Linked DNA regions of Homo sapiens: all the other regions are linked to region 1. Evidence: fine-mapped expression QTL. A gene starts in region 1. Each other region holds a variant in brackets. All regions are shown on one strand. Distances are between the middles of the regions.

Region 1 (9,992 bases):
CGTGAGGCAGTATCAGATTAGGGTAAGTTCTGGATCAAGGACTGTGGAGGGTGGTGGGGAGAAGGATCTGTAGAAACTATCATTTATTGAATACCCATTATTTCATATACTGTACTAAGTGCTTTACATTCATTTCCTCATTTTAATCCTCACAACAACCCTATGAGGTAGGTATTATCACCATTTACAAATGAGAAACAGGCTCAGAAAAATTAGGTCACTTGTCCAAGGTCACACAGCTAGTCAGTGGTGGAAGTGGGATTTGTCTGCTGCTGAAAGCCCATGTTCTTTTTATTGTACCCATCTAGGTGAGCCTTGAGCAAAAGGTAATTTCACTGCCCAACTCTGCAAAGAGCACCAGGGAGTCGAGGTTGCCAGCCACACTCACCGCTGGTAGGGATGCATGGAAGCCGACTTGATGTTGGTTTTTATTCCACTTGGCATTTTCCCTGAAAGGAACATTAAAAAAGTCATCTTAAGCAAGGTAAGACTTTCATGACAAATCAGAAATGTGGTACCTCAGGTTCCCTCTGTCACTTCCTTTATCATCTCAGAACCTCTGCGGCATCTGACCCTGTTTGACAGAGGTCAGAAGTATGATTCTTCACCCAGCTGTCTCCCTGAAGGTGTCCAGGAGGAAAGAAGTGACATGGGAGAATAGTCTGTTCATCCACTCCTAGAACAGATAGCTAAACCTGTGTGACTCCCATTTAACGTCACAGGTAAAAGAGTACTATGTTCTCTCATTGTTTTTCTTTTTTTATATCATAATAAGTGCAGAATCTCTCTTTAATTGTCCCTTTTCCTAGACAGCTTGGAGGAAATAACTCTTCTAGCTGCCTGCATCTAGACTGTTCTAAAAATGAGTAGGAGAGAAGGCAGGAAGCCAAGAGCAAGAGAGGCAGGATACAGAGAAAAGAATACATGTAGGACTGGAAAACTGGCCTGCGTGTCAATTCCTGATGCACCTACCAAATGGTCTTAAGATCTGACTGCTGATTTCTCTACCTAACAAGAGACACTGACAACATATCTAATACCAGAATAAATGGGATAGAAGGATAGTTGACACAGAGATGTGAGATGCGGATGAGAAATTGGAGCAGTTTCTGTTACTCAAAGTTCTTCCTCACTCTCTGGTGCCTGTTGCAGAGTCTCAGATGAGATTTTTTTACTTCTGAAAATTATTTCCTGGGTCACAGTGAAAAGGAGAAATAGAGAAAACCTCTAGGTCTAGAGATGCTGGAGGCCCAGATAATCTAGCTTATTCCCTCCCACTCCTGCTCAAAGTCAGCTTCATTTCAACCCCTGCCACCTTACCTGGTTGACCTGCCTGAGCCATTTGTACCCCACTGAGCATTGGCTGCTGCTGGCTTGGAGCTCCTGCCATCTGCACCTGCTGTAATCCTGAGGTTCCTGCAAGGATCGTCCCAGCTCCTGGCTGGCCTGCCTGGCCAGGACCACTGCTGCCTGAAGGTCTCCAATTAGATAGTCCTTTCCCAAAGGCAACAGCTGCCACCAAGGCATTAGTGTCTGTAGGGTTAAAGGTCTGCTTGTTCGGCCGGAGACCTGAAGAAAAAGTAATGGGGATCCTGAAGTATGCTTCTGATGCAGGACTGAACGTGGCAGCTGGAAGACCAGTATGAGTGCCAGGGTTTGGAGTTCTGAATTCAGCAACATCTAGACTCCCTCACAGCCCAGAAAAAGAGCCAGAGGACCCCCAAGCCTATCTCAGAATTCTCTCTTCTTACTTTGCCCATTTCCTCCACTGCTTCAGTGCTGGCCTTAAATACAAAAGGCTAACAGAATGGATACAAACCCCAAAGCAGTTCACCCTTGTGTCCTAACTTCACTACTTCCAAAACAACCATTCCCATTCCAGTGATCTTATATACCTCTCCTTCTCTGTTTAGCCACCAGTCCCATCATACCTCCACTCTCTGATTCTCGCTCCTCTTTGCTGATTTTCTCCAGAAGGTTTGAACACATTTTATTCAAGCTCTGGATCTGCTTCTGTAACACACAAATTTGTGCAGAGATTAGGGTAACTAGGAAACGATATGGAGAAATTTATTCCTTGGGTTCTGCCAGAAGCAACTTAGGCGCAACCAACTATGTATCCCTACTAGACAGGAATGGTAATGCCTAGCTTCTCATGATGGGATGGGGATGGGGCAGCAAGGCAGTGACTCAGTCCAACCTGGGCTGCATCTGCACCAATGCGGGCAGCATCTGTCGTCAGTTGCTTCTCCTGTTCTTCCACTTCAGGGTCAGGCTTGGTTCTCAGATGGTCAGGGACTACCTCATGGCTGAAAACAGGCACCCGTCCTTCAGTCTGCCGCTGTAACACACAGATTTTATTGATCCTACTCTGTACTCCAAGAAGATTCTATCTGGCCTGACATAAAGTCCCATCCACAGGCAAACAGTGCATTTTCAAGGAAAATACAACCTGAGACATAATATCTAGTTTGCTAGGACACACTCTCCTTTACTCCATCCTTCATTTTTTGTGTCTTCTCACATCCCTATCTCTACCAGACCTAGGGGCAAATTAAACTATCACTGTCTGCCACGCTTCAAAGACTGGAATAGACAAAGTCACAAAAGGGCAAACTTTGTGGCTTGAGACAGATGTTGGAGAAGAAAGGTATCAGCCTTGGTGACATACCCCTCAGGTTATTACAGCACTATTTGGGAGTGGCTCTCCCGCCTTCAGAAGAACAAAAAGCAAGGCCTCCAAAATTATTTCTAGGCTCTCAGCTAATAACTTAATTTCCCTAAATACTAAAGAAGCCTAAAAAACCCCTTAATTTCCCAAGTTGTATTCTTTTTCTCCTCTTACCATGAGATCTTCATCTCGGTCTGGAGACAACACCAGAGGAATGATGACCTGGTTACGGAACAGCGGTGTTTTTTCATGCTTCAAGACCTTGTTCAGAGTGTTCAGCTGTCCAGAAAGCAAGGCAAAGCTGTCCAGGACAGATGGCCTGGTGGTGGTAACAAGGTGTAAGAATGTTGTACCCCTTCCCTGGGTGGTTCTTAGTAAAATAGTCCTAGTTCCTTCAGGCTAGGAACACTTGGATTCACCTCCAAAAGTCTCATAGCCCTATGACTAGCCTAAGTGGGAACAGACTAACAGGGATGACAGGGCTATGAAAGAGGGACATAGTTTCAGTTTATGAAACAGACGTAGAAAAAACCCAGTTCATTGTTTGAATGGGGTGAGGAACAGTGGCAAAATAGGAACCAGGGCTACACTGTTATAACTAAAACTTCAGAAACCGGGTAAAAGCCTCCTTTCCAGCCTGGAAATAAGATCCACACTTCAGAGTAGGTTGGCTCTAAAAGACTCAGCCACATCTGTGGCAAGAGATCCAGCACGAATAGAGCTGTAGTGGGAGGACCTCCTCACCAGAGAAGTCAAAGGGTAAGAATTGAAAGCTAGAAAGAACTTGGGTTAGGAAACTGAGCATTTCTCTACTTCCTTGCCATGGAATCCACTTGCTAAATGTTAGGAAACCCAGCTCTTTCCAAATCAAAAGATGTTTGCAAACTGATAAATGGTTACATCATTAGAAATGTCCTATTCATCAGGAGGCTAGGCCCCCCCACCCATAAGCCCTTCCTAGCTTGCCCTGGTAACTCTTACCAGGTCAGCCGGCCATACTCGTTCTCCAACTTGCAAATGAAACTCCCCAGAGAGTTCTTCAGATCAGCCACTTGACTCAGCAGTGCATCTAATGATGCCTCAAGCTGCTTCTCCTCTCTCTGCACCAATAGGAACAGGTTGGTCACCCAGATAAACGAGTATGACACATAGAAAGGAGGGCTGGAAAGCCAAGGAGATGGTGTGCAACACCAGTCAGGTAACACAGGATCTCATTGGCATAGGATAGCCAGGTTGTTTTCTATCTTTGGTATTTGGGTTATAGACAGCATCAACCCTGAGACCTTCCAACCTGTTTGCCTGACCCCAAGTCCTTCCACCAACTGATTCCTTTTCCCCATCACCTCCTAATCTATGCCTGGTTTTTCTCTGTGTTAGGTACACCCTACACTCCCTCACTGAGACATTTTCGACAGACCTAATGCCAGGAGATCATTCTCTCATGTGCACCTCTGTAGCACATGCACTCCAGCTTCCTCCATCCTAGCATCTGTGAGCCTGGCTGTCTTGTCAGTCTCTGGGAAATCTGCCTACTCATGAAGACTTCTCTGAACACCAGTCCTGCTCTCCCCTTTCCCTCCCCCAACCAACGACTCCAGCTTTCCATCTGCTCTCATCATTTTGTTTCAACCTTCTCCTTGCTGAATTAATATGCAATCATCTATCTCTGTGTCAATATTCCCGTGCCTCTTTCACAAGCTCAGTCAACCCATTAACATTTATTGAGACTACCAGCTGCAAGAAACTAAGTGACAAATGAAAAACAAAAACCACACATGCTTCTAAGCACTGGACAAACAAATTAAAATGCTGGGGGTCTGCAAAGCATTTCCTTCCCATCGGTGGTCTCCTGTTTTACTCCATTTCTTCACCCTTAACAACTATAGGGCACAGGCTGGGAAGAGGGATGCAAAACTGTCTTGCAAACCTGCCTGACAGAAACTTGATCCCGGGTTCCACCATGGCCTCTGATTATAAGCTGCTTAGCTTTCAGCCATCGCGGCCCACAATTCCCTCACTGCTTGGGCTTCTTTCCAATTAGATCCCCTGCTATATCGGCAACCAACAGCCTCCATCCAGCAGCTTAGGACAGGGCCTGAGCCAACCCACCACCTTCTTGAGCCGTCTTCCTTGGACTGCATCTCAGCCTCCCCGTATTACAACCTAATCCTTTCCCACGCCAAGCAAACAGGTGCTGCCTCCTCCCTCCGGATTTAGCCCGACTGTCTCCTGTCAGGCAAGCTCCACCCCCACCTCTAATCGCCGCCGCTCCCGCTCCAATTAGCCTCGCCCCCCAGCCCACATTCCCTTATCAGCCGTGGGTTCTGCCCTCTCTTCTCAGTCCCAACTCTTCATTCTCCTTAGCCAGCCCACTCTCGGTCCCTGTACCCGAAGCTTGCCAGCCGCTAGTACGCCCAACGCAACTCTCACCTGCATTGCGGCGGCCGAGGCGGCTGCCACGATTTCACTTCCGGTTTTCCAGTCAGCAAACGCCTACGAGAAGGCTTCGTCCACCAATCAGAAAACTGGAACTCGGCCCTCCCACCAACTTCCGGTTCCTGCTGGGTGCCGAGGTAGCGAGGTCAGGGGTCAAGAGTGGAACACCCTCACTGGCCCGGGCCGGCGCGGGAGGGCTGTGTGATGGCCTCGGAGCGCCCGGAGCCGGAGGTGAGGGGCGGGCGGGCGCAGCACTGGGCCCCGAGATCCGAGGGGGAGGGTCCGGCGGGCAGGCGTGGCGTTGGCCTCCTCTAGGTCTGGGGGTGGCCGGGCTGCGTAGCCTCGGCAGGGACCAGCCCAGCCCGGAAGGCCCGACTATGGTACCCCTGCGGACTGTGTATGGGACGCGGTCCGCAGTTTCCTCGGGGAGCTAAAGGAGTAACTGTTCGCTTTGTTTTGTTTACTGACATGTCACCCGCGTCGTCGTCTCTAAGACTTATAGCGGTGTTAACAAAACTTGTATTTTGACTTTCTGTTGCAGTTTCAATGGGCAACACGGCAGTAGATTTACTTTGCTGGTTTTTGCATTTCTTTAGGCATTGGAATACCATAAACAGCATGAATTTATTTAGTTCTAGGGCTCATGCTTTTAGAAAAGCAGCTTTAATTTCATGAAAAAAACATTTGAGTCGGACTGAGACCTCGTTCCAATATTGGCGCTGTCATGTAGCTAATCTGTGCAACCTCAGGCGAGTCTTCCCGGATCCTGTTTCCTTCTTTATAAAATATCTGTCTTATAGTGTGTTGTGAGAATCACATGTAATAAACCAGAAAGGTGATATGATATATTCGTTAAATGCTAAGGAACATGCAAGGAACCTTATATATGTTGTGTCATTCAGACTTGTGCAAGGAAGGTGGCATTCTCACAGAGGAGAAAACTGAAAAATGAGAAAGATTTAGTACCTTACTCAAATGCCACTCATCCAGGAACTAGCAGTTTGGAGTTAGAAGATCTGAGCTTAAAATCTCAGATTCGGATAAAACACCACCACCAGGAAAGGTGCCAACATATCAGTAGGTGGGAAGGGTGAGAGATGTGTATAATGATAGAAATAGTATTCATTACTGCATACATACTGCATGCTCAGTACCATTCTAAGCTCTTTACCAATATCAGTTAATCCTCAGCCCTATGAAGTGGACACTGTATCATCTCCTTTTTTTAGTTTAGGAACTGAGGCACAGAGATATTAAGAGTAACAAAGTAAGCCGGGCGCAGTGGCTTACACCTGTAATCCCAACACTGGGAGGCCGAGGTGGGCAGATCACCTGAGGTGAGGAGTTCGAGACCAGCCTGACCAACATGGAGAAAGCCTGTCTGTACTGAAAATGCAAAATTAGCCAAGCATGGTGGCGCAGGCCTGTAATCTCAGCTACTCGGGAGGCTGAGGCAGGAGAATCGCTTGAACCCGGGAGGTGGAGGTTGCGATGAGCTGAGATCATGCCATTGCACTTCAGCCTGGGCAACAAGAGTGAAACTCCGTCTCAAAAAAAAAAAAAAGTAACAAAGTTACACAGCTATTAAGTATTAGAGTCAGGACTCCAAAACAGATGGCCAGGCTCCAGTCCTTGTGTTCTTAACCATATTGTTCATGGTATAAGTAATAAAGTAGCCACAGAATGGTAAATCTCCAGTTCACTGGGATTTGGTGTGGTAAGACCCAACATTGAATATGGTGGTAGGAAACTATGCCTTATTTAAAATAGTCATGTTCACAGAGGTGGTAGAATAGCTCATGCATCAGAAATATCAATCAAGATCAATCAGAAATATTAACACAAGAAAAACTATGAAACAGTTTAGAGGATGTTTCATTATAGATTAAAGTGAAAGGAGGTGGAGGGATGTTGTGGGGAAATGCAACATACCTTTTAGGCAGATAGTCTAGGACAACACCGTCCTGTAGAAATCTAAAGCAAGCCACATGTGTAATATTAAATTTTCTGATAGCCACATAAAAAAATGAAACAAGGCCGGGCGCGGTGGCTCACGCCTGTAATCCCAGCACTTTGGGAGGCCGAGGCGGGCGGATCACGAGGTCAGGAGATCGAGACCATCCTGGCTAAAACGGTGAAACCCTGTCTCTACTAAAAAAAATACAAAAAATTAGCTGGGCGTGGTGGCGGGCGCCTGTAGTCCCAGCTACTCGGGAGGCTGAGGCAGGAGAATGGCGTGAACCCGGGAGGCGGAGCTTGCAGTGAGCTGAGATTGTGCCACTGCAGTCCAGCCTGGGCGACAGAGCGAGACTCCGTCTCAAAAAAAAAAAAAAAAAAAAAAAAAAAAAAAAAAAAAAAAAAAATGAAACAAATGAAATAAAATGTAATTATATATTTAACCCAAAACTCCCAAAATTTTCAAAATGTAATAAAATACAAAACATCGTGAGATATTTAACATTTTTTTTGGTACCAAGTCTTTAAAATCTAGTGTTGTATTTTACACTGATAGCACATCCCATCTTGGTCTAGCAACATTGTAAGTGCTCAGTAGCCCCATATAGTAGTCTTTACCATATAGAGCAGTACAGATCTAAAGTAATTTCAAGTCAAGACACACAATCCTGGGAGTCTCAGCCAAAAGTTAAGCTTTTTTTTTTTTTTTTTTGAGACGAAGTCTCGCTCTGTCGCCCAGGCTGGAGTGCAGTGGTGCGATCTTGGCTCACTGCAACCTCCGCCTCCCGGGTTCACGCCATTCTCCTGCCTCAGCCTCCCAAGTAGCTGGGACTACAGGCGCCTGCTACCATGCCCTGCTAACTTTTTGTGTTTTTAGTAAAGACGGGGTTTCACCGTGTTAGCCAGATAGTCTCAATCTCCTGTCCTCGTGATCCGCCTGCCTCGGCTTCCCAAAGTGCTGGGATTACAGGCGTGAGCCACCGTGCCCAGCCTAAGTTAAGCATTTTTTAACTCCCTGATTTGCATTTCTGAAAATTTTATCAGAAGGTAAAGAGATTGAAGAGTTCTGCCCCTGGGTGTAATAAAGTTATTGACTTTTAGAGGCTGTTAGGATCCCAAGAGAGAAAGATTGGGTATAGTCAGATTTAGGAAATCATTCATTCATCACACACTTGAAATATTTTACGAGTGCTGGTAGGAGTCAGAATTGTGCTAAGTATCAGGGTGGATACAGAGCCGTGTAAGACAGACATGCTCTCTATCTTTATGGAGTAAACAAGGATTGAATTAGGATAATAAGTGCTGTAAAGGAGTGAATTAGGGTGTTTAACAGTGGTTCTCAACCTACCTTGTTAAGAAATGGGGAGGCAAGGGGTTGTGAATAGGAAGACTCAGAAGAATGACATTTAAGCTGAAGCCTGAAGAATAGGTAGAAGTTTTCTAAAAGAAGAGGCAGAGAGCATTGCAGGCAAAGGGAATAGTGAAGATCTTCAGGTGAGAAGGAGCCCAGTGGAGCCTTCAGAGAACTAAGAGGAAGCAACTCCTTGTGTGGATGCAGTTTGACAATGAGAATAGCTAGCACTTACTGAATGCTTACTGAGTATCATCTGATACTCAAAAATTATCTGAAAATAAGCACTTTTATTATCTGTGTTTCACAGATGAGCTAACTGAGGCATAGAGAGTGTAAGTCTCTGCCAAAACTATATAGTTAATAATCAGCAGAGCAAGCATTTGATCCTAAGTGCTCTAACACTGGAATACATGCTTTTAACTGCGTGGGGATTGGTGAGAGATAAGGCTGGAGAAGATGCAGCTTGAGGCCATGCTAGAGGCTCAGGACTTTGATGTATAGTGGTAAGAAGATTTTAGCCAGTTCAAGAGGGGAAATAATCCACATTATTTTGTGGGAATGTGTTAACAAAAGACAGCACAAGGGTTAGAAAAGGCTGAACAAATCAGACCTTAATCACAAAGGGACAGGCACAAAAAGACAAAGCAACAAATTAATGAGATGGACCATGCTTCATTCTTCCTGGTATACATGGTATGCAGCACAGTGCCTGGTAATGTTTTATTCATCTTGGTATAAATGGTATGTAGACCTCAATAAATATTCCAAAGAATGATAGCCTTCCTCTCCTGTTTAATTGCAACGACATCCCTATGAAGATATTCTTATCCACATACTATCAATAAAGAAACCGAGGCTTGGAAAAATTAAGTAACTTGTCCAAGGTCACCTATATAGCAAATGATAGAATCAGATTTGAATCCAGGTCCCTGACCCCGAAACTCTACTTTGTCTTCCTTGCCAGACTACTCTGAGAGTAATGAACTTCAGACTCAAGGAGGATTCATATGAGGACTTGAAGCTCCATGTGAGTGTGGATGCTCTGAGAACTAATTCAGGGATTCTCAAATGTTAATGTGGAAGAATCACTTGGAGACCTTGTTAGAATGTAGATTCTGGAGCCCATCAACTCTTTTTTTTTTTTTTTTTTTTGAGATGGAGTCTTGCTCTGTCGCCCAGGCTGGAGTGCAGTGGCGTGATCTTGGCTCACTGCAACCTCCACCTCTCAGGTTCAAGCAATTCTTGTGCCTCAGCCTCCTGAGTAGCTGGGACTACAGGTGTGAGCCACAGCACCCAGTCTGGAGCCCATCAACTCTTAATTCAGTTGGTCTGGGGTGGTGCCTGGGACTCAACGCTGTATTTTCATAAGCACTTCAGGTGATTTTTCATGCAGCTGGTCCTTGGATCCCACTTTGAAAAACACCATTCTAGCTGCTTAAATTATTAAGTCTTCTAGTTATGATAAATTACATCTTGAAAGTGAAGAGAACTTAGAAATGATGTTTTGAAAATATAGTTGTTGGGCTGGGCGCGGTGGCTCATGCCTGTAATCCCAACACTTTGGGAGGCTGAGGC
Region 2 (9,992 bases), 24 kb after region 1:
AAAGGGAGAATCAAGAGGCTCATTCTAGACACGTGATTTTATGTCCTGTTTTTTGTTTTGTTTAAGAGACAGGGTCTCACTCTGTTGCCCAGGCTGGAGTGCAGAGGCATGATCATAGCTCAATGTAACCTTCAACTTCTGGGCTTAAGTGATCTCCCACCTCAGCCTGCCAAGTAGCTAGGACTACAGGTGCATGCCACCATACCTGACTAATTGTTTTAAATTTTTTTGTAGAGACAGGATCTTGTTATGTTGTCCAGGCTGGTCTCAAACTCTTGACTTCAAGTGATCCTCCCACCTCAGCCTCCCAAAGTACTGGGATTACAGGCATGAGCTGCTGTGCTTAGCCTGTCCTGCCTTTTTTTTATTTTTTTAACATATAGTATGGGCATTCTTGTGTGTCACTAAATATTCTTTGAAAATGTGATTTTTAATGTCCTGTTAACTTACTGTTTCATCATATCTTACCATATGTTTAGCCAGCCCCTACTTGGCCACTTGAGTTGTCTCAGTTTTCATTATTCTAAATAATATGAATAGGAACATCTTTCTCACCTTTTTATGGCTCCAGTTCTGCTCGTTTTCCTTCCCATGGGCCTGTAGAGTGAGACAATGTCCCACTTTCCCTTTTCTGGCTCGCCCGACCCACTTATCCAGTTGGGAACAGGGAGTAAAAAAGTAGTTGTTCCATGGGGTCAGGGTCCGAGAGAAGTGGGCATGTGGGGCAGGTTGTACGAGTGTGATGGGGAAAGAGGGGTGAGATCCTGAGGGCCACCGCAGGGACTGCTGGGTCTATATACAATTTTAGGATGGGGATACTTATTTATGTTTGAAGTAGAAGAAAAGGAGCCCATGGAGAAAGAATGAAGATATTAGAGAGACAAAAGGCTCAAGATTAGATGGACAGATTAGCTACAGGGAAAAAGAGAAGGAAGAGGAATCCTTGCTTCAGCACCTTGAAGGAAGAACAAAGACACAGATGTAAACCTTCAGTAGACTTTGGGGGTGCTTTCAGAGAGTTAGAGAGTAGTGTACCCTCCAGTTTGGGGTAAGCAGGGCGTTCCTATTGACTGACTTGCTTTCTCTTTGAAGAGGGCACAGGGCAGGAGTTATCTGCTGAGGGTAAAGGGAAGGAAGGAGCATTCATTAGGGGGATAAGGAGAGGATTTTGAGCGTAAAAGAGAGAAAAGTGAAGGTCTACCTAGAATAGTCAGACAAGAGAAAGAAAGAAAGGTCATCCAAACTGGAAAATAAGTCAAATTATCCTTGTTTGCAGATGATATGATCTTTTATTTGGAAAAACCTAATGGCTCCACCAAAAAACTATTAGAACTGATAAACAAATTCAGTAAAGTTGCAAGATACAAAATCAACATACAGAAAATCAGTAGCATTTCTGTATGTCAGCAGCAGACAATGTGAAGAAGAAATCAAGAAAGTAATCCCATTTACGATAGTTTAAAATAAAATACCTAGGAATTAACCAAAGAAGTGAAAGATCTCTACAATGAAAACTATAAAACATCGATGAGAGAAATTGAAGTGGACTCCAAAAATTGGAATGATATTCCATGTTCATGGATTGGAAGAATCAGTATTGTTAAAATGCCCACACTGCCTAAAGCAGTCTACAGATTCAGTACAATTCCTATCAAAATACCAATGACATTCTTCATAGAAATAGAGAAAACAATCCTAAAATTTATATGGAACCACAAAAGACCCAGAATAGCCAAAGCTATTCTGAGCAAAACAAACAAAACTGGAGGAATCACATTACCTGACTTCAGATTATACTACAAAGCTATAGTAACCAAAAACAGCATGGTACTGGCATAAAAACAGACACATAGACCAATGGAACAGAATAGAGAACCCAGAAGCCATATATCTACAATGAACTCATTTTTGACAGATGCCAAGAACATACATTGGGGAAAGAACAGTCTCTTCAATAAATGGTTCTGGGAAGACTGGATATTCATATGCAGAAGAATGAAACTAGACTCCTATCTCACAAAAATCAAATCAAAATGGATTAAAGACTTAAATCTGGCCAGGCGCAGTGGCTCACACCTGTAATCCCAACACTTTGGGAGGCCAAGGCAGGTGGATCACGAGGTCAGGAGTTCAAGACCAGCCTGGCCAAGATGGTGAAACCCCATCTTTACTAAAAAACTACAAAAAAACTAGCCGGGTGCAGTGGCAGGTGCCTGTAATCTCAGCTACTCGGGAGGCTGAGGCAGGAGAATCGCTTGAACCCGGGCAGCAGAGGTTGCAGTGAGCCAAGATCGCGCCACTGCACTCCAGCCTGGCCGACAGAGTAAGACTCTGTCTCAAAAAAAAAAAAAAAAAAAAAAAAGACTTAAATCTAAGACCTCAAACTATGAAACTACTAAAAGAAAGCATTGGAGAAACGCTCCATGACACTGGACTGGGCAAAGATTTCTTTTCTGTGTCTAATCTAGCAGATTAACTCAATATCCTGCTCTATTTAATACTGTTAAGCAGAAGGAAATAACTAATTTCAATTTTAAACTCACAAAACAAAGGAAACAAAATCATCTCACTACAGGCCTTTGACAAAGAACATGAGTCATTTGCTATAGCTGCCAGGCATCAGTGTATGGCGAGGAACGGGGGCTTGAGGTTGCCCAGGCAAGGCCTCTGAGGTGGGGTATATTGGGGGTTGGGGGGGGATCTTGATAGCACTGAGTTGCTGGATCCTGTGCTGCCCTGCCTGGGTGGGGAGCAGGGTGAGGGAGGCCATTCCTCTTCTGTAGAAAATGCCAACCCCCAGTACAGGGACTCTGGCAGCTGAATTGGTGACTGTAAAGCCTGATCTATATGAAATCAAAGGCACATGTGGAAATCCACTCCCAGCAAAGGGGGAGTCCTTGGGGGAAGCCAGCTGGGTTTCTGTAGGATCCCCTCTGAAATGTCAGCATTTGAAAAACACAACCCAAAAGTAGAGGATCTACAGGGAACTTTATTCTCTCACTTCTGTCTTCATGGAGGGCACTGCCCCTTGGGAAGACCAGGTTGGCTTCTGGCACAGGTATCCCCCATCTTCTTGGGCACCTGTGGCATTGCCAGCAGGCCAGAGGGGGCAGCTGGCAGTGTTGGCTCTAGCCTGACCCAGGGGGCCCAGTTAGGATGCCCTCTACCCATGGCAGGGGTGATGGCTACTTCTCCATGGTTCATGCATGAAGCTTCCAGCCCTTTCCAGCTCAGGGAACACATGCAGAATGACAGTCACCCAGCAGACTGGAAACTGCCTCCTCTCCAAAAGTCTGGCTCCTGAACACCCTCCTCCCTGGGAAGGGCTTTAGCCCCTTTGAGATTGGGCAGGAACCAGAAGAACAGTTTCTCTGCTTTGCCATGTCTGCAACCTAGGGCTCACCCAGCCCCATCAAGTGCTGAGCTCCAGCACTGTCCACACAGTGGAAACCAAGTGAAATGACTTTGGCTTGTGGAGGGGGAAGAATGAAAAACAAAAACAAAAGCAAAATCACCTGCCCACAAGATAGAGCAGAAAAGTTCATCCACTATCTTTTTTTTTTTTTTTTTTTTTTTTTTTGAGACAGAGTCTCACTCTGTCACCTCGGGTGGAGTGCAGTGGCATGATCTTGGTTCATTGCAACCTCCGCCTCCCGGGTTCAAGCAATTCTCCTGCCTCAGCCTCCCGAGTAGCTGGGATTACAGGCACCTGCCACTACGCCCAGCTAATGTTTTGTATTTTAAGTAGAGACAGGGTTTTACCATGTTGGCCAGGCTGGTCTTGAACTCTTGACATCATGATTTGCCCGCCTCAGCCTCCCAAAGTGCTGGGATTACAGGCGTGAGCCACCACACCCGGCGACTTCATCCACTGTCTGTCCGCTTCCTGTGTAAGGCCGACCACCCAGCCCCCAAACAACCCTTAAAATGAGACCCAAACCAAAGACCTAACATATAAGCCTCAAATCAGTAAACCTCTCCTGAAACAGGCAGAGGAACTGCCTGCCCAGAAATACTCACAATAGGCTGTGCAGATTGTAAAGAGATCAACAGCTTCACCCACGCTCTGCATAAACTCTGGTACTGGCTGTGTTCTCCATAGAAGGTCTCGCTGTGTTGCCTGGGCTGGAGTGCAGTGGTGTGAACACAGCTCACTGCAGCCTTGATCTCTTGGGCTTAAGTGATTCTCCTGCCTCAGACTCCTGAGTAGCTGAGACCACAGGTGCATTTCACCACTCAGCTAATTTTTAGTTTTTTTGTAGAGATGAGGTCTCTACCAAGCTGGTCTCTAACTCCTGGGCTCAAGCGATCTTCCCATCTTGGCCTCCCAAAGTGCTGGGATTACACATGTGAACCACTATGCTTGGCTCAAAGATTTATTGATAATACCCTGCAAGCACAAGCGTGCAAAGCAAAAATGGACAAATAGGATCACATCAAGTTAAAAAGCTGCACAGCAAAGGAAACAATAAACAAAGTGAGGAAACAACCACAGAATGGGAGAAAATATTTGCAAACCACCCATCTGACAAGGGATTAATTACCAGAATATATAAGGAGCTCAAACAACTCTATAAGAAAAAAAAATCCAATAATCTGATTTTAAAATGGGATTTTTTTTATCTTAAAAAAGATCTCAATAGACATTTCTCAAAAGAAGGCATACATATGGCAAACAGGTATATGAAAAAGTGTTCAATATCATTGATCATCAGAGAAATGCAAATGAAAACTGCAATGAGGTATCATTTCACCCCAGTTAAAATGGTTTTTATCCAAAAGACAGGCAATAACATGCTGGTGAGGATGTGGAGAAAAGGTAACGTTGTGCACTCTTGGTAGAAATGTAAATTAGTACAACCACTATGAAGAACAGTTTGGAGGTTCCTCAAAAAACAAAATAGGCTGGGCACGGTGCCTCATACCTGTAATCCCAGCACTTTGGGAGGCCGAGGTGGGAGTTTGAGACCAGCCTGGCCAACATGGTGAAACCTTGTCTCTACTAAAAATACAAAAA[T/C]TAGCTGAGCGTGATGGCAGATGCCTGTAATCCCAGCTACTCGGGAGCCTGAGGCAGAGAATTGCTTGAATCTGGGAGGCAGAGATTGCAGTGAGCCGAGATAGTGTCACTGCACTCCAGCCTGGGTGACAGAGCAAGACTCCATCTCAAACAAAAAACAAAACAAAACAAAACTGAAAATAGAGCTACCATATGATCTAGCAATCCTCCCTCCTAGGTGTATACCCAAAAGAAAGGAAATCAGTATATGGAAGAGATATCTGCACTCCCATGTTTATTACAGCACTATTCACAATAGACAAGATCTGGAAGCAGCCTGAGTGTTCATTGACAGATGAATGGATAAAGAAAATGTGGTACATATATACAATGGAATACTATTCAGCCATAAAAAAGAATGAGATCCTGTCATTTGCAACAACATGGATGGAACTGGAGGACATTATGTTAAGTGAAATAAGCCAGGCACAGAAAGACAAACTTGGCATGTTATTTATTTGTGAGAGCTAAAAATTAAAACAATTGAACTAATGAAGATGGAGAGTGGAACGATGGTTACCAAAGGCTGGGAAGGGTAGCTGGGGGAGGTGGAAGGGGAGATGGTTAATGGGTACAAAAATAGAGTTAGAAAGAATGAATAAGATCTAGTACTTGATAGCACAGTAGACTGACTACAGTCAACAGTAATTTATTGTACATTTAAAAATAACTAAAAGAGTAAAATTGGATTGTTTGTAACACAAAAAATAGGATAAATGCCTGAGGTGGGTAGGCATGGTGACTCATGCCTGTAATCCCAGCACTTTGGGAGGCTGAGGTGGGTGGATCACTTGAGGCCAGGAGTTTGAGACCAGCCTGGCCAACATGGTGAAACCCCGTCTCTACTAAAAATACAAAAATTACCTGGGTGTGGTGGCCCATGCCTGTAATCCCAGCTGAGGAAGGCTGAGGCACAAGAATTGCTTGAACCCGGGAGGCGGAGGTTGCAGTGAGCCAAGATCGCACCTGCACTCTAGCCTGGGCGACAGAGCAAGGCTCTGTCTCAAAAAAACAAACAAACAAACAAAAAAAACTTGAAGTGGTGGATACCCCATTTACCATGATTTAATTGTTATACATTGTATTCCTGTATCAAAATATCTCATGTGCTCCATAAATATATACACCTTCTATGTACCCACAAAAATTTTTAAAAAAAAATTTTTTTTTATACAGTCTCACTCTGTAGCCCAGGCTGGAGTGCAGTGGCGTGATCTCTGCTCACTGCAACCTCTGCCTTCCAGGTCCCAGTTAAGCAATTCTCTTGCCTCCCAAGTAGCTGGGATTACAGGTGCCCACCACCATGCACAGCTAATTTTTGTAAAATTGAAAAGGTCCAGAATAGCCTCTGTGTGTACAGAAGGTAGGAGTCTCCATGGTGACAGCTGATCTTGGGCTGGTCAGTATGCTTAGAAATAAAAAAGCATTAAAAAGTATGAGAATAAAAAAGGCTTTGCCGGGCTGAGGAGGGGCAGCTCATAAGACATCCTGTAGGCCAAGGTAGAAGAAGCTATTAATAGAAGATCTTATAGTGCCCCCATGTGGGGGGTTGGGGAAGCCCAGTGTGGAGGACCCTAAGCAGAGGGAAGTTGTGACCCCAGATAAAGATGACTAATGACTAGGGACCTGGGCTGAGGACTGATGGAGATTGGATAAGGGGGAAATTGGCTGTGGAGTCATACCTTAGACCCTGGTTGGGTAGGAAGTCAGGATCGCCTAGATGGAGCTATGGAGAATAAACAGAGCAGAAGTGTAGTGGTCTGTGCCACCCTGACCGTCCTGTCTCAGTCTTTCCCATGTGCTTCTTAGGTGCTGGTACAGGGCTGCCTCTTGGACCCTTCCCAGCGGGAGGTGTTCCTGCAGCAGATATATGAGCAGCTCTGCCTCTTTGAGGATAAGGTGGCCACCATGCTGCAGCAGCAGTACGATCCCCAGAGCCAGGTATGTAAGAGAGAAAGTGGGCAGAGGCAACTTAGAAAGAGGAGCAGCTAAGGACAGAGGGCAGAGAGGAGGGATAGTCCAAATAGGGCAAAAAAGGGCTAAGAGCTGGGGCAAAATGAGACAAGGATAGGCATGCTCATGACACACTCCCTGTTGGAGCAGGACTCAGATATACTCCCCAAAACACAGATTCTTTCAGGGAAAAAATGTGAAATCCATTTGTTTGCATTTTTTTTTAGCCCCAGATCTCCTCCAGTGGATCTGAGAAGGTGATTATGCGTGGCTTTGACCTCTAGTTAGCATTTTGTACAATCAGGGATAAAGCTGCCTAGGCCCACTAGACTTCCCTGTCTCATCACTTTGGGTACCCCAGAAGTAGCCAGGCAAATGGCAGTCCTGTGTGCCTGATGACTGGTCATGTAATTTGATTGAGGTATAAAATATTTCATAACAGTGATGGAAAAATGTGGAAAGGGGCCCTTCTTGGCAAAAGATGGAGAAGCCCTACTTCAGTACAGTCTGAAGCTTCATCTGATGCCGAACTCCCTTCACCTCTGAGGTTCAGTATCTGAGCACACACAGGGAGGAAGCACAGTCAAGACTCAGCCGCATAGTAGGGGAATTGAGGTTCTCACAGGATTCGGCCTGTCTGGCCTGAGAAGTGCTGGGCTATAAATTCTGGCTTTGCTATGGATGGGGCAGCAATGCCATCTGCCCCATTCTGTCTTTTCTGTAACTTGGGGCAGGCAGAAGACCAGTCCCCAGACTCAGGGGACCTACTGGGCCGGAAGGTAGGCGTCTCCATGGTGACAGCTGATCTTGGGCTGGTCAGTATGATTCGTCAGGGCATCTTGGCACTGCAGTTACTACCCTCGAACTCTAGTGCAGGTCAGTAGAAGGAATATTGGTGGGACTGGGGAAGCAGGGATACAGGAAGGGTGGGGCTGACTGCTAACAAAGATAGCAGTTCCAGGGAATCAGTGGGCCCCAGGGAAGAGGATCTGTTTCCTTGTTTGCAAAATGTAAGTCTGTATTAGTGTGTATCAGGAACCCTCGACTCTGACAACCATCAGAGACCCTAGAAGGAGTAGAGCTCCAAGGATATCACTTAGGGGAGGTTATGATCTGGCATTCAAGAGGAAGAAGCAGGAGGGTAAGGGAGAAGGAAAGGTGTTTGAAGTTTATAAAACTTCACAGTTTATGAAACTGCCGACATTGGTGGGAAGACACTGAGCCGTTCAGGACCCTGTCAGTTGGGTGCCTCCCTGTGAGTTTGGTCTGGCCAGTGTCTCCAGGTCTGATCTGGTGTTTCCTGCTCCAGGGATTATCGTGATCACGGATGGGGTGACCAGTGTACCTGATGTTGCTGTCTGTGAGACACTGCTGAACCAGCTTCGCAGTGGCACTGTGGCTTGTTCCTTTGTCCAGGTGAGGACTTTTTAGGAAGGACGAGAGAGATATGGAATATCTCACACAAAGTTGGGATGGCTGATTACTTTCTTACAGGCAGTGATTTCCCAGATAAAGTCAATTACTTAGTTACATGGGGGGAAGGAGTCATATCTAGAAGGTAGGTAGCATCGTGGGAGAGGACTCTTATTTTTTTCCTCTTTCCTTAGGATTTTGGAAATAGCTGTTAAAGCAAAAAGAATGCAGAATTTGAAATCTGACAGTCATTTCCAGTCCCACCTCCCCTTGTAGATTAGTCATTATTGTTTTGAGTGCAAGGGTCAGAAAACCCCGCTCAAACTAGCTTAACCAAAGGGGGAAAAGGCATAGCCAGGGACTGCAGCTAATTTGGATTGATGGACTGTAGGGAAGGAGGTAAAAAGCTATGGGAAACAAGGCTGAAGGGGTAGGCACAGGCCAGAACATGAAAATCTGGTTCTGCTTTATTAATGAGGTTAAGCATGATTCTGTGGGTGATGCAGATAGATAGAAGGAAAGTCATTAGTTGGGTTTATGTTTTATAAAGGTCACTCTTGCTGCTGGGTGAAGGACGGGGGAAGTCGGGGAGGCTACTAATTGCAGTGAGAGAGGATCAGGGCTTAAATTAGGGGTAAGAGGATTGAGAAAAATGAAGAGGCAGAGTCAACCTGACTTCATGATTAGCAAGATGGGGGTAAGGAGATGAGAGAGAAGCGGGCTTAAAGTTGTCTCCAAGTTTTTGACTCCAGTGATGACTGGGTAGCAGCAGAGCAAAAGGAAGAGAAGCAGTTGTGGTAGAGTGAGGATAAGATGATGAATGCAAGTTTGTGTATGTTGTGTTCGAGGTGCCTGTGGTTCAACACAGACAGTTAAGAACATCACCTTTGGAGTTAGGCATGCTGGTCTAAATCCTGACTGCACTTACTAACTGTGTGACATTGGGCACATCACTTCACCTCTAGGTCAGATTCATTTGTAAATGGAGATTGTAAAAGTACTTATCTCACTGGGAGGTGAGATGCATTTAAAGTATGTAGCATTGTACGTAATCACTTAAGAAATGGCTGCTATTTGTAGCAGGTAGCAGTTGAATACACAGATCCTGATATTCAGGAGACAAACACTGCTTGAGAGGTAGAGATTTAAGATTTATCAGGGTACAGATGGTAATTGAGAACAGAAGAGGGTCCTGGAAGAACTTTGGGGAACACCAGTGTTCAAGGTCTTTCATAGGAAGAGGGCCCAGCAAGGAATGAAGAATCAGCCAGGAACCAGAAGATTGTGATGTCAGAGAAGGTCAGAATTTTTGGAAGAAAATTTTACTGGATCTTTCTGCTGCTTCTCACAATGGTAACTACACTGTGAGAAGTAGCAAAAAGATCAAGTAAAATGAGGAATGAAAAGTGCCCTTTGGATTTGGTGATTAGGAGGTCACGGGGATCTTTTTCAGAGCCATTTTAGTGAAGAGGTGGTGAGGGGATTGAAGAGTGGATAGAAGGAAGGAAATAGGGACAAGTGTTGACAAAAGAAATTTGGCTGTTGAGATAAACAGCAGAGCAAGAGAGAG
Region 3 (9,992 bases), 73 kb before region 1:
TTTTTTTTTTTTAATAAGAGAGTGGTGAATGAGGGCAGGGGCAGAGAGCAGGATGATGCCCAGGTAGTCTCCCTGACCTGGGTTTCGGCCCCTTCTGTCTACCCCCACACTGCATGGGAAGAGTGCACCCCCAAACCATGTCTGGCCATGTCACTTCCTCATCTACCATCTTTTGGGACACCCTCATGCCTTTATTGCTTAATCCTTGTGCCCCAAGCTACCCAGGGGCCTGAACTCTGTCCTCCCTGGGCCCTGGCCACTATGGTCATCTGTTGAACTTGGTGTCCCTCAAGCCCAGAGGGTCCCCAGCTTGAAACAAAGATGCAGAAGTGGACTGGATAGGCTGTGTGCCCATGCCTTACCCTGAGTCTCCTGGCAGTGCCCCCCGTGCCCCTGGCTGCACCTCGGCTCCTGACCAAGCAGAGCCGCCAGCTTGTGGTCTCCCCGCTGGTCTCGTTCTCTGGGGATGGACCCATCTCCACTGTCCGCCTGCACTACCGGCCCCAGGACAGTACCATGGACTGGTCGACCATTGTGGGTGAGTAGGGAGAGAGCTGGGGCAGGACAGAGGTGTTGGGTAATAGTGAAGGGATACAGTGAGCAGGAGAGGGAGGGCAAATGGTGCGAGGGGGCTGAAGGGAGCATGGCAGCTTCTAGAAGAGGTGGGGGCTGAATAATGTGTGCTTTACACCCCACGCCCAGTGGACCCCAGTGAGAACGTGACGTTAATGAACCTGAGGCCAAAGACAGGATACAGTGTTCGTGTGCAGCTGAGCCGGCCAGGGGAAGGAGGAGAGGGGGCCTGGGGGCCTCCCACCCTCATGACCACAGACTGTCCTGGTGAGAGGCCAAGAGTCATCCCTTCCTGTCCCCCCAAGGGTTACTTTCCCGTCGACCCCAGGGACCCCTGCCTTTCCCACTGGAGGTTGTTCTTCCTTGTTCACTGGGGATCATTGTCCTGTCCAGCCCCAAGTACCTACTGGACAGTTCTGACCCCTGACCTCTGGCCCCAGAGCCTTTGTTGCAGCCGTGGTTGGAGGGCTGGCATGTGGAAGGCACTGACCGGCTGCGAGTGAGCTGGTCCTTGCCCTTGGTGCCCGGGCCACTGGTGGGCGACGGTTTCCTGCTGCGCCTGTGGGACGGGACACGGGGGCAGGAGCGGCGGGAGAACGTCTCATCCCCCCAGGCCCGCACTGCCCTCCTGACGGGACTCACGCCTGGCACCCACTACCAGCTGGATGTGCAGCTCTACCACTGCACCCTCCTGGGCCCGGCCTCGCCCCCTGCACACGTGCTTCTGCCCCCCAGTGGTATGTGCAAGGCGCAAGGATAGCTGGGGGTTGGGGGAGGACGTGGGACACAGGGACACATGAGACCTAGGAGACACGGGAGGCTGTAGGAGATTAATGGACATGGAGAGGACACAGGACACACATAGGGTATTAGGCAGACGTGACCCCAGCGGGGACATGGGACTTGGGGAAGATCCAGGGTACCAGGAGGACACAGATCACCAGGAGCATGTGGGGAGAGCATGGGGAGGTCAGGGTTCATGGCGAGAACCAGGGTCATGGGAGGGCATGAGACTTGCGGAACACAGGGCATGGGCGGATGTGGAGAGGACTTGGGATACAAGAAGTACAAGGAGAAGCAGAAGCTTGAGGGTGAAAGTGGCCTGGGGGAATGGAGAGGAATTCAGTCTGGTGGGGAGGAGGAAGTTGGCAGGGTGGCCCCTGTGCTTGGACCCACAGAGGAGGGAGCACAGCTAGAGCAGATGTGTCCAGCCCCACAGCTACATAGCCCGGTCCTATCTGAGCCTTGCCTTCCCCCACCATCTCCCCAGGGCCTCCAGCCCCCCGACACCTCCACGCCCAGGCCCTCTCAGACTCCGAGATCCAGCTGACATGGAAGCACCCGGAGGCTCTGCCTGGGCCAATATCCAAGTACGTTGTGGAGGTGCAGGTGGCTGGGGGTGCAGGAGACCCACTGTGGATAGACGTGGACAGGCCTGAGGAGACAAGCACCATCATCCGTGGCCTCAACGCCAGCACGCGCTACCTCTTCCGCATGCGGGCCAGCATTCAGGGGCTCGGGGACTGGAGCAACACAGTAGAAGAGTCCACCCTGGGCAACGGTGAGAGGGCAGGGCCCACAGGACCCCCCGGGCTCTGAGCGGGGAGAGCTCAGCACGCTCTCCTTCCACATCACCCCCTACTGTGGAGCTAGGGCATCCCAGGCCCCTCCTGACAAAGAGTCAGCCCCAGTCCTGGGGACTCAGCCTTCCATTCTCATGATCCACTGTCCCAGGGCTGGGAAAATCATGTCGCCCCTCTGACACCCCTCATCCCTTCCTTCATGTGGCCCAAGTGATTTCCTGACAGTCCTGGCACTGGGATCTTTCACCTCTCCCTCTGTGTAACCCCATGGTGGCCTCTGGGTTCCCTGACCCAGGTGTCCCCACAATCTGCCCCTCTCACTGTGTCCAGGGCTGCAGGCTGAGGGCCCAGTCCAAGAGAGCCGGGCAGCTGAAGAGGGCCTGGATCAGCAGCTGATCCTGGCGGTGGTGGGCTCCGTGTCTGCCACCTGCCTCACCATCCTGGCTGCCCTTTTAACCCTGGTGTGCATCCGCAGAAGCTGCCTGCATCGGAGACGCACCTTCACCTACCAGTCAGGCTCGGTCAGTGACCCGCCCCGCCCCTGGGTGCATGCTTGCAGCCCGTGTTTATGTTTCTACCTGTGTACACACAATACCTTGTACACCTTGTGTGTGTGTGTGTGTGTGTGTTTATGTTGCAGGTATAAGATTACACTCAACAATGTTCAAGGGTACAAAATATAATTTTCTTTATTTCTCTAAAACTGAATTCAGCTCATGAGCCCATTTATATTAGTGGTGAAATATTTAATATTCCCATTTCAAAAGAATTCCGTGATGACCATATTTCACAATGGACATTCCAGTTTTGGGCTCCGTCAATTGGAGATTTTCCTCTCCCCTCTTTTATTTCTCCCTAGCGGTTATCTAGGCCTAGATAGCAAGGTGATCAAATGGAAGGGCACTTGGGGTTCATGCTGGCTTTTGTCCTTGCAGGCCTTCCTGGGCTCGGGAGCCAGCCTCTGTCTGCACACATCTTTGGCTGATGTTCTTAGCCCTGCTGTGGCCACCTGCCAGTAGGCCAGTCATGCTGTGAGCTCCTCATCCTAACCTTCATTCTTGCAAATCCCAGGGCCTCCTTTTGGAGACTTAAGAAAGGGGCTGGGCACAGTGACTTGCACCTGTAATCCTAGCATTTTGGGAGGCTGAGGCGGGTGGATCGCCTGAGGTCAGGAGTTTGAGACCAGCCTGGCCAACATGGTGAAACCTTGTCTCTACTAAAAATACAAAAATTAGCCAGGCGTGGTGGTGCATGCCTGTAATCCCAGCTACTCGGGAGGCTGAGGCAGGAGAATTGCTTAAACCCGGGAGGCGGAGGTTGCAGTGAGCCGAGATGTTGCCACTGCACTCCAGCCTGGGCAATAGAGCAAGACCCTGTCTCAAAAAATTAAAAAAGAAAAAGAAACAGAACTAAAGAACTGTAGGGGCTTCCTTATACCTTATGGAAGGAGGCATATTCTGTGGCCCTCAGACCGCTGCCACAACCCCTTCCCACTTAGACAACTGTTTCTACCACTCCAGAATTGTGCTGGCCTGCTCCTTGAAAGAGGAAGCACAAACCTCCACTCCTCCTGGCTTCCCTGTAATCCTGCCCGAGTTGTCTGTCCTCCTGTAGCCCACACCCTTCTGTCCCTCAGGCCCCTGCTTAGAGGTGGGGTGTGGGAGGGCACCCACTGTCACTTTATCCTGTCACATTCTAGCCGCCCATCCGCAGGTCCTGTCTCCTCTGAGGGCTTCTTCATTGT[C/T]GTCACTTAGGATCTGAACTCTGTCCTTGGCCTTCCAGGCCTGGACTCTTGATATTTAGAGCTAAGCTTTGGCATTTCAAATAAAAAATAAAAAAAGAAAGAAAACCCTCTTCTCTCTCAAGGGCTGATCCTTGTGATAGAAAGCCTAGTGTCTCTGCTATGCCTTTGAAAAATCCATTCAGAGGCCGGGCGTGGTGGCTCATGCCTGTAATCCCAGCACTTTGGGAGGCTGAGGCGGGTGGATCATGAGGTCAGGAGTTCAAGACCAGCCTGCCCAGTTGGTGAAACCCCATCTCTACTAAAGCTACAAAAATTAGCCAGGCACAGTGGCAGGAGCCTGTAATCCCAGCTACTAGGGAGGCTGAGGCAGGAGAACTGCTTGAACCCGGATGGCAGAGGTTGCAGTGAGCCAATATCACGCCACTGCACTCCAGCCTGGATGACAGAGTGAGTGAGACTCCATCTCAAAAAAAAAAATCCATTCAGAGATTCAATTGGCTTCTTTGTTCCAAGCTGTGTTGGCTCTTCCTCTGAGGTCAGTGCACACAGAAAGCCCTCACTGCTGTGGTGGGGGAGGGTAATGGGTACAGATGTCGAGGGCAGGAGGTGGGAAAGCAGTCCTTAACATACATGGTGTCATACTCTATATCAAGATATATCCCCCTAGCCTGGGCAACATGGCAAAACCCCATCTCTACAATAAAAGAAAATATGAAAATTAGATGGGCGTGGAGGTGTGCACCTGTGGTCCCAACTACTCGGGAGGCTGAGGTGGGAGGATTGCCTGTGCCCAAAAGCTCGAGGTAACAATGAGCTGAGATCGTGCCATTGCCCTTCCGCCTGGGCAACAGAGCGAGACCTTGTCTCAAAACAAACAAAAAGATATATCCCTGGTACATGTGCCTGCATATGGATAGGAAACGTGTGTGCACAAATGTGTGTGCTCCATGTATGAGTGCACACGTGCATCCCCTGTGAGTGCCACATGTTTAAATGCGTGTGTCCCAGATGCACGTGTCCCTATGCCTGTGCACCTTCAGGCCTGCATGTGTGTATGGACCTATACATGATGCACCTACATATGGTGCTGCCCAAGAACATCACGTGCATTTGCTATGTGCCGTCAGCACCAGTGCTTCTTGCAAATCCCTGGGCCCCAGGTCCTCAGCCCTTGCCCATCAAGCTGGACTTCAGTGCACTTAGGAAGCCCCACCAGAAGGTCTGTCTTAACCCTGCTTCCAGTTCTCATATTGGCAGTTTCTTTGGTCCTGTTCACTTATTTCCTTTTCCCACCATCAGCCCCACCCAGATGGCCTCCTCCTACTGAGTTAGGAAATTGGACATTCCTCTTTGTTATAGTCTTGCTATTTTCAGGTCCTGGCCTGATTTTAGAGCTATGGAGAAAAGCCAAGTGTGTGGACAGGGTAATCTCTGCTTCTGCTACTGTGGAGAAAACCCCTCCACTGGCTCCCAGCAGCTCAGGGCTGAGCATGTAGTAGGTGCTCAATAAATGTCCCCTGGCCTACTCCCTAAGGCTGGAATCTTCTCCAGAGCTTCCCTGGTGACCCCCAACAACAACAACAACAAAAAGCCTGGTTGTAGGATTAGCACAGTCATAGGAAGCTCATTCCGATCCTTTTCTGTTTTAAATGTTAGAAATATCCTCCTTCCATTGACTCACATTGTGGCTTCTAGCAACTTTACCCACAAGCCCTGGTTCTGCCTTCCAGAGTCCCGTACACTAGATCCCCTGGCTGCAGCCTCTGCATTTCTCTCCTTGGACATCTGTCCACCCAGCAGCCTACCTGTGGCTCTGTTACCTATGATTCTGTCTCAGTTATGTCCTCTGTCTGCCTGTCTGTCCCTGGCTGACCACCAGGGTGCCCTCCATCTGGGTCTCTGCCCACTTGTCTGACACTGAAACCTCCTCGTGTGCCTGTCTGTGCCTCCTTCCGCCCCCTTTGACTCTTGCGTGGACCGTCTGCCCTCTTGTCTCATCCTGTGAAGGGCGAGGAGACCATCCTGCAGTTCAGCTCAGGGACCTTGACACTTACCCGGCGGCCAAAACTGCAGCCCGAGCCCCTGAGCTACCCAGTGCTAGAGTGGGAGGACATCACCTTTGAGGACCTCATCGGGGAGGGGAACTTCGGCCAGGTCATCCGGGCCATGATCAAGAAGGACGGGCTGAAGATGAACGCAGCCATCAAAATGCTGAAAGGTCCACTGGGGCGACCCCTGGCCCAGCCCTGATGCTCTCCTTTGTCCCACAAATCCCAGGCCCCACCTGGCTTCCTCCAGCAATTGACCCCAGCCCTTGCCAGCCCTTTCTCCAGAGTTATTTCTGGCAAAATAATATTGGATTCTTTACACAGAGTATGCCTCTGAAAATGACCATCGTGACTTTGCGGGAGAACTGGAAGTTCTGTGCAAATTGGGGCATCACCCCAACATCATCAACCTCCTGGGGGCCTGTAAGAACCGAGGTGAGCCCCCAGCTCATCACCTACCCCTTCTTCCAAACCCCCATCCTCAGCCATCACCTCCACCACATGAGTAGCTTGCCAGGGGCTGCTGGTGACCTGTGCACCACCCTTGATCCTCCTTCATCCCTGTCTGTTACCATCGGGTGCCTGCTCCCACCCTAGGTTGCCTGTGTCTAAATCACCACTGTCTGTCTCTTTGCCTCTCAGGTTACTTGTATATCGCTATTGAATATGCCCCCTACGGGAACCTGCTAGATTTTCTGCGGAAAAGCCGGGTCCTAGAGACTGACCCAGCTTTTGCTCGAGAGCATGGGACAGCCTCTACCCTTAGCTCCCGGCAGCTGCTGCGTTTCGCCAGTGATGCGGCCAATGGCATGCAGTACCTGAGTGAGAAGCAGGTGTGTGTGAGTGGGGGCGGGTGGAGGCCAGAGGGGGAAGCCACTGGGCTGGTGTCAGTGGAAGAAGTCAGCCGGCCCTGATTGTATCTGGGGATTGAGGTTCCTGGCCCAAGTGTGTGGGTGGGTGCAAGCACAGCGAGGAGGCAGGGCCAAGGGGCAGGTCTGGAGGAGGTGGGGACTTCCAGTATGGAGGGTGCGGGTGTTGAGTGAGCAGGTCTAGATGCTAGCCTGGAACTCAGGAGAGAGGCCCAGGCTGGAGACAGCATCTGTGTGTGAGCTGTCACCCCACAGATGGTGCCTAATGGCAATGGGCCTGGTGCGATCTGCCGGAGAGGGGGAAGGGCAGAGATCCAAGCCCAAGTCAACTCAGGCCTGAATGAGAGGACAGGGGGATGACTGTCCAGGGGAGTGTGAGTCTGAGGGAAGGCATTTTATCTTTTTTTTTTTTTGAGACTGAGTCTCACTTTTTTGCCCAGGCTGGAGTGCAGTGGTGCGATTTCAGCTCACTACAACCTCTGCCTCCTGGGTTCAAGCAATTCTCCTGCCTCAGCCTCCTGAGTAGCTGGGATTACAGGCATGTACCACCACACCCAGCTAATTTTTGTATTTTTAGTAGAGACGAGGTTTCACCATGCTGGCCAGGCTGGTCTCGAACTCCTGTCCTCGAGTGATCCACCCGCCTCAGCCTCCCAAAGTGCTGGGATTACAGGCATGAGCCACTGCACCTGGCCAGCATTTTAAAGATAGTAAAGTTTTGAGTATGTTTGAAAGCAGAGGGGCAGGGGAAGGGGCCAGTGCAGAGGGAGGGGCTGGTGGAGAGAGGTCTCTGGGGAAGCTGGAGGGCTAAGGGAGAGAAACTGGAACCCAGGGGATGGGAAGAGGGAGGGGGAGAAGCATGGAAAGAGGAGAAGGTGCAGTATGGCCACCACTGTCTCAGGAAAAGGGATCCAGCCTGAACTTGGTCAGGGCCCAGGAACGAGCGGGTGAGAGCCAACACTGATCTTTCTCAGATATGAGTCAGCTGACGAGATTGCAGCCAGGAGGGTAGGAGTATGGGGTATTGAAGGTAACAAGGGTACCCACGAAGACTGACTCCTTACTGGCCTGACTGTCCTGGGCTCCCTCATCCCCAGTCTCTCCTGACTTCTGACCCTGCCTACAGTTCATCCACAGGGACCTGGCTGCCCGGAATGTGCTGGTCGGAGAGAACCTAGCCTCCAAGATTGCAGACTTCGGCCTTTCTCGGGGAGAGGAGGTTTATGTGAAGAAGACGATGGTGAGTCTCATTCAACCCTCACCCTTAGGGCTTGTGCCTGGCCCTGCCCCACAGGAGCCTCAAACAGGCCCTTCCTCCACACTCAGCCCCTCAAACCCATTCTCTCCTAGGGGCGTCTCCCTGTGCGCTGGATGGCCATTGAGTCCCTGAACTACAGTGTCTATACCACCAAGAGTGATGTGTGAGTGTGAGATGAGAGGGCACAGGAGGGCTTGGCCCCCAAGAATCACCCAGGCCTGACCTAGACATATCTCAGAAATGTCATAGGTGGTCTAAGGCATGACCTGGGCTGTGTTCCAGGTGTGACACAGGTGTGTCTTGGGTATAAAGTACCTAGCCAAGGTGGGGCTTGCTGGAAGGAGTCTTGGAAGGTGTTTCAGGAATAGGACTGGGGTAAAGGTAGTTTCGGATTATGTTTGTGTAAGTGACGGGGGATGCCTTGGAGAGGTTTGGGAATGCTGGCGGATGCTTCCTGAGGTAGATGGAGAGGCCACTCAGGAATTGCTCTCATCTTCCTCCCTGAAGGGCAAGGTCATGCCCACCTGAGGATCTTACCAGAGCATGACCCCCAAGACTCCCTCTCTGTGCCCCCTCCCCTGCAGACAGCCCTCTTGGCACACTCCTCCTGTCTCTCCAGGGATGTCCATCTTGATCTGAACCTACCCCTTGCCCCAAGCCCTTTGGCCTTGCCTGCATGGCTCACTGCTTACCACACTGATCACTCCTCTGACCACTACATGCCTACTTCGTGCTTCTGCCCCAACACTCCCTTGATTCCCTCCACCCCCTTTGAACTCTCTCCCCTGGTCTCAGGGCTGATGCACACTACACAGAGGCTGTTAAAGTGTGAGATGCAGTCAAGAGTAAGAGCTTTGGAGCCTGAGTTGGAACGCTTGCTCTGCCACTAACTAGCTGTATGGCCTTGGGCAATCTAGCTAACCTCTCAGTGCCTCAGTGTCTTCATCTGTAAAATGGCAAGACTAATAGAACCTGTATCATAGGGTTGGTGTGAGGGTTAAATGAATTAACATGTCTGTTAAATGACCAGGGCCTGGACCACGGTAAGTGCTCAATAAAAATGTTAGCTCGGCTGGCTGTGGTGGCCCACATGTGTAATCCCAGCACTTTGGGAGGCCAGGCAGGCAAATCACTGGAGACCAGGAGTTTGAGACCAGCCTGGGCAAGATGGCAAGACCCTGTCTCTACTAAAAATACAAAACATGGCCGGGCGTGGTGGCTCACGCCTGTAATCCCAGCACTTTGGGAGGCCAAGGCGGGCAGATCACAAGGTCAGGAGATCGAGACCATCCTGGCTGACACAGTGAAACCCCATCTCTACTAAAAATACAAAAAGAAATTAGCCGGGCATGGTGGCGGGCACCTGTAGTCCCAGCTACTTGGGAGGCTGAGGCAGGAGAATGGCGTGAACCCAGGAGGCAGAGCTTGCAGTGAGCCGAGATCTCGCCACTGCACTCCAGCCTGGGCGACAGAGCGAGACTCTGTCTCAAAAAATAAATAAATAAATAAATAAATAAATAAATAAAAATACAAAACATTAGCTGAGCATGGTGGCACACACCAGCTACAAGGGAGACTGAGGTGGGAGGACCACCTGATCCTGGGAGGTTGAGGCTGCAGTAAGCCACTGCACTCCAGCCTGGGTGACAGAGTGAGACCCTGTCTCAAAAAAAAAAAAAAAAAAAAAACAAAACAAAAGAGCTCTAATTGTGCTGAGCCCAGGGATGGGGGCAGTATGAAGGAGCTTCATTGGCGCAGAGACAACAGCTGGCCAAGGCCAGATACTTACAGAGTAGACACATACAGCGGGGCTGGGAGGCACTGCACATCTTGGGCAGGTAGAAGCTAAACTGCTAGGGACCAGGGCCTAGAAGGTAACTAAGTGCATCCTTCTTATTTCAGCTGGTCCTTTGGAGT

Direction of the effects. Alleles are on the strand shown, and positions count from the first base shown. SD is a standard deviation of normalised expression in the study named. Not every link is listed here.
With allele C in place of T in region 3, the expression in esophagus muscle of the gene that starts at base 5,242 in region 1 is higher (moderate effect, 0.47 SD a copy in GTEx).

The links. PIP is the estimated chance that this variant, and not a neighbour inherited with it, causes the effect.
Region 2: its variant is the best candidate, but not a certain one, in a credible set for the expression of SZT2 in whole blood (TOPMed, PIP 0.67).
Region 3: its variant is the best candidate, but not a certain one, in a credible set for the expression of SZT2 in esophagus muscle (GTEx, PIP 0.62).

The regions. Positions count from the first base shown.
Region 1 is chr1:43,384,658-43,394,649 of GRCh38, forward strand. SZT2 (SZT2 subunit of KICSTOR complex) reads left to right here and starts at 5,242. Exons shown (of 72, transcript NM_001365999.1): 1 at 5,242-5,338. The coding sequence starts at 5,312. MED8 (mediator complex subunit 8) reads right to left here and starts at 5,143. Exons shown (of 7, transcript NM_201542.5): 1 at 5,102-5,143; 2 at 3,653-3,771; 3 at 2,846-2,990; 4 at 2,201-2,341; 5 at 1,932-2,013; 6 at 1,321-1,569; 7 at 1-449. The coding sequence starts at 5,107. The coding sequence ends at 385. MED8-AS1 (MED8 antisense RNA 1) reads left to right here and starts at 392. Exons shown (of 2, transcript XR_001738027.1): 1 at 392-484; 2 at 627-1,069. RefSeq lists an enhancer at 3,653-3,792 and a silencer at 5,233-5,562.
Region 2 is chr1:43,408,217-43,418,208 of GRCh38, forward strand. It overlaps SZT2 (SZT2 subunit of KICSTOR complex), which reads left to right. Exons shown (of 72, transcript NM_001365999.1): 5 at 6,866-6,997; 6 at 7,744-7,885; 7 at 8,319-8,425. Among named protein-coding and RNA genes, the nearest start is that of SZT2, 23 kb to the left of the region's middle. The variant T/C (reference allele first, on the strand shown) is at 5,018.
Region 3 is chr1:43,311,292-43,321,283 of GRCh38, forward strand. It overlaps TIE1 (tyrosine kinase with immunoglobulin like and EGF like domains 1), which reads left to right. Exons shown (of 23, transcript NM_005424.5): 10 at 380-538; 11 at 703-840; 12 at 1,014-1,310; 13 at 1,844-2,134; 14 at 2,487-2,677; 15 at 5,908-6,118; 16 at 6,273-6,383; 17 at 6,591-6,781; 18 at 7,944-8,057; 19 at 8,168-8,238; 20 at 9,978-9,992. Among named protein-coding and RNA genes, the nearest start is that of TIE1, 15 kb to the left of the region's middle. RefSeq lists an enhancer at 9,652-9,992. The variant C/T (reference allele first, on the strand shown) is at 3,901.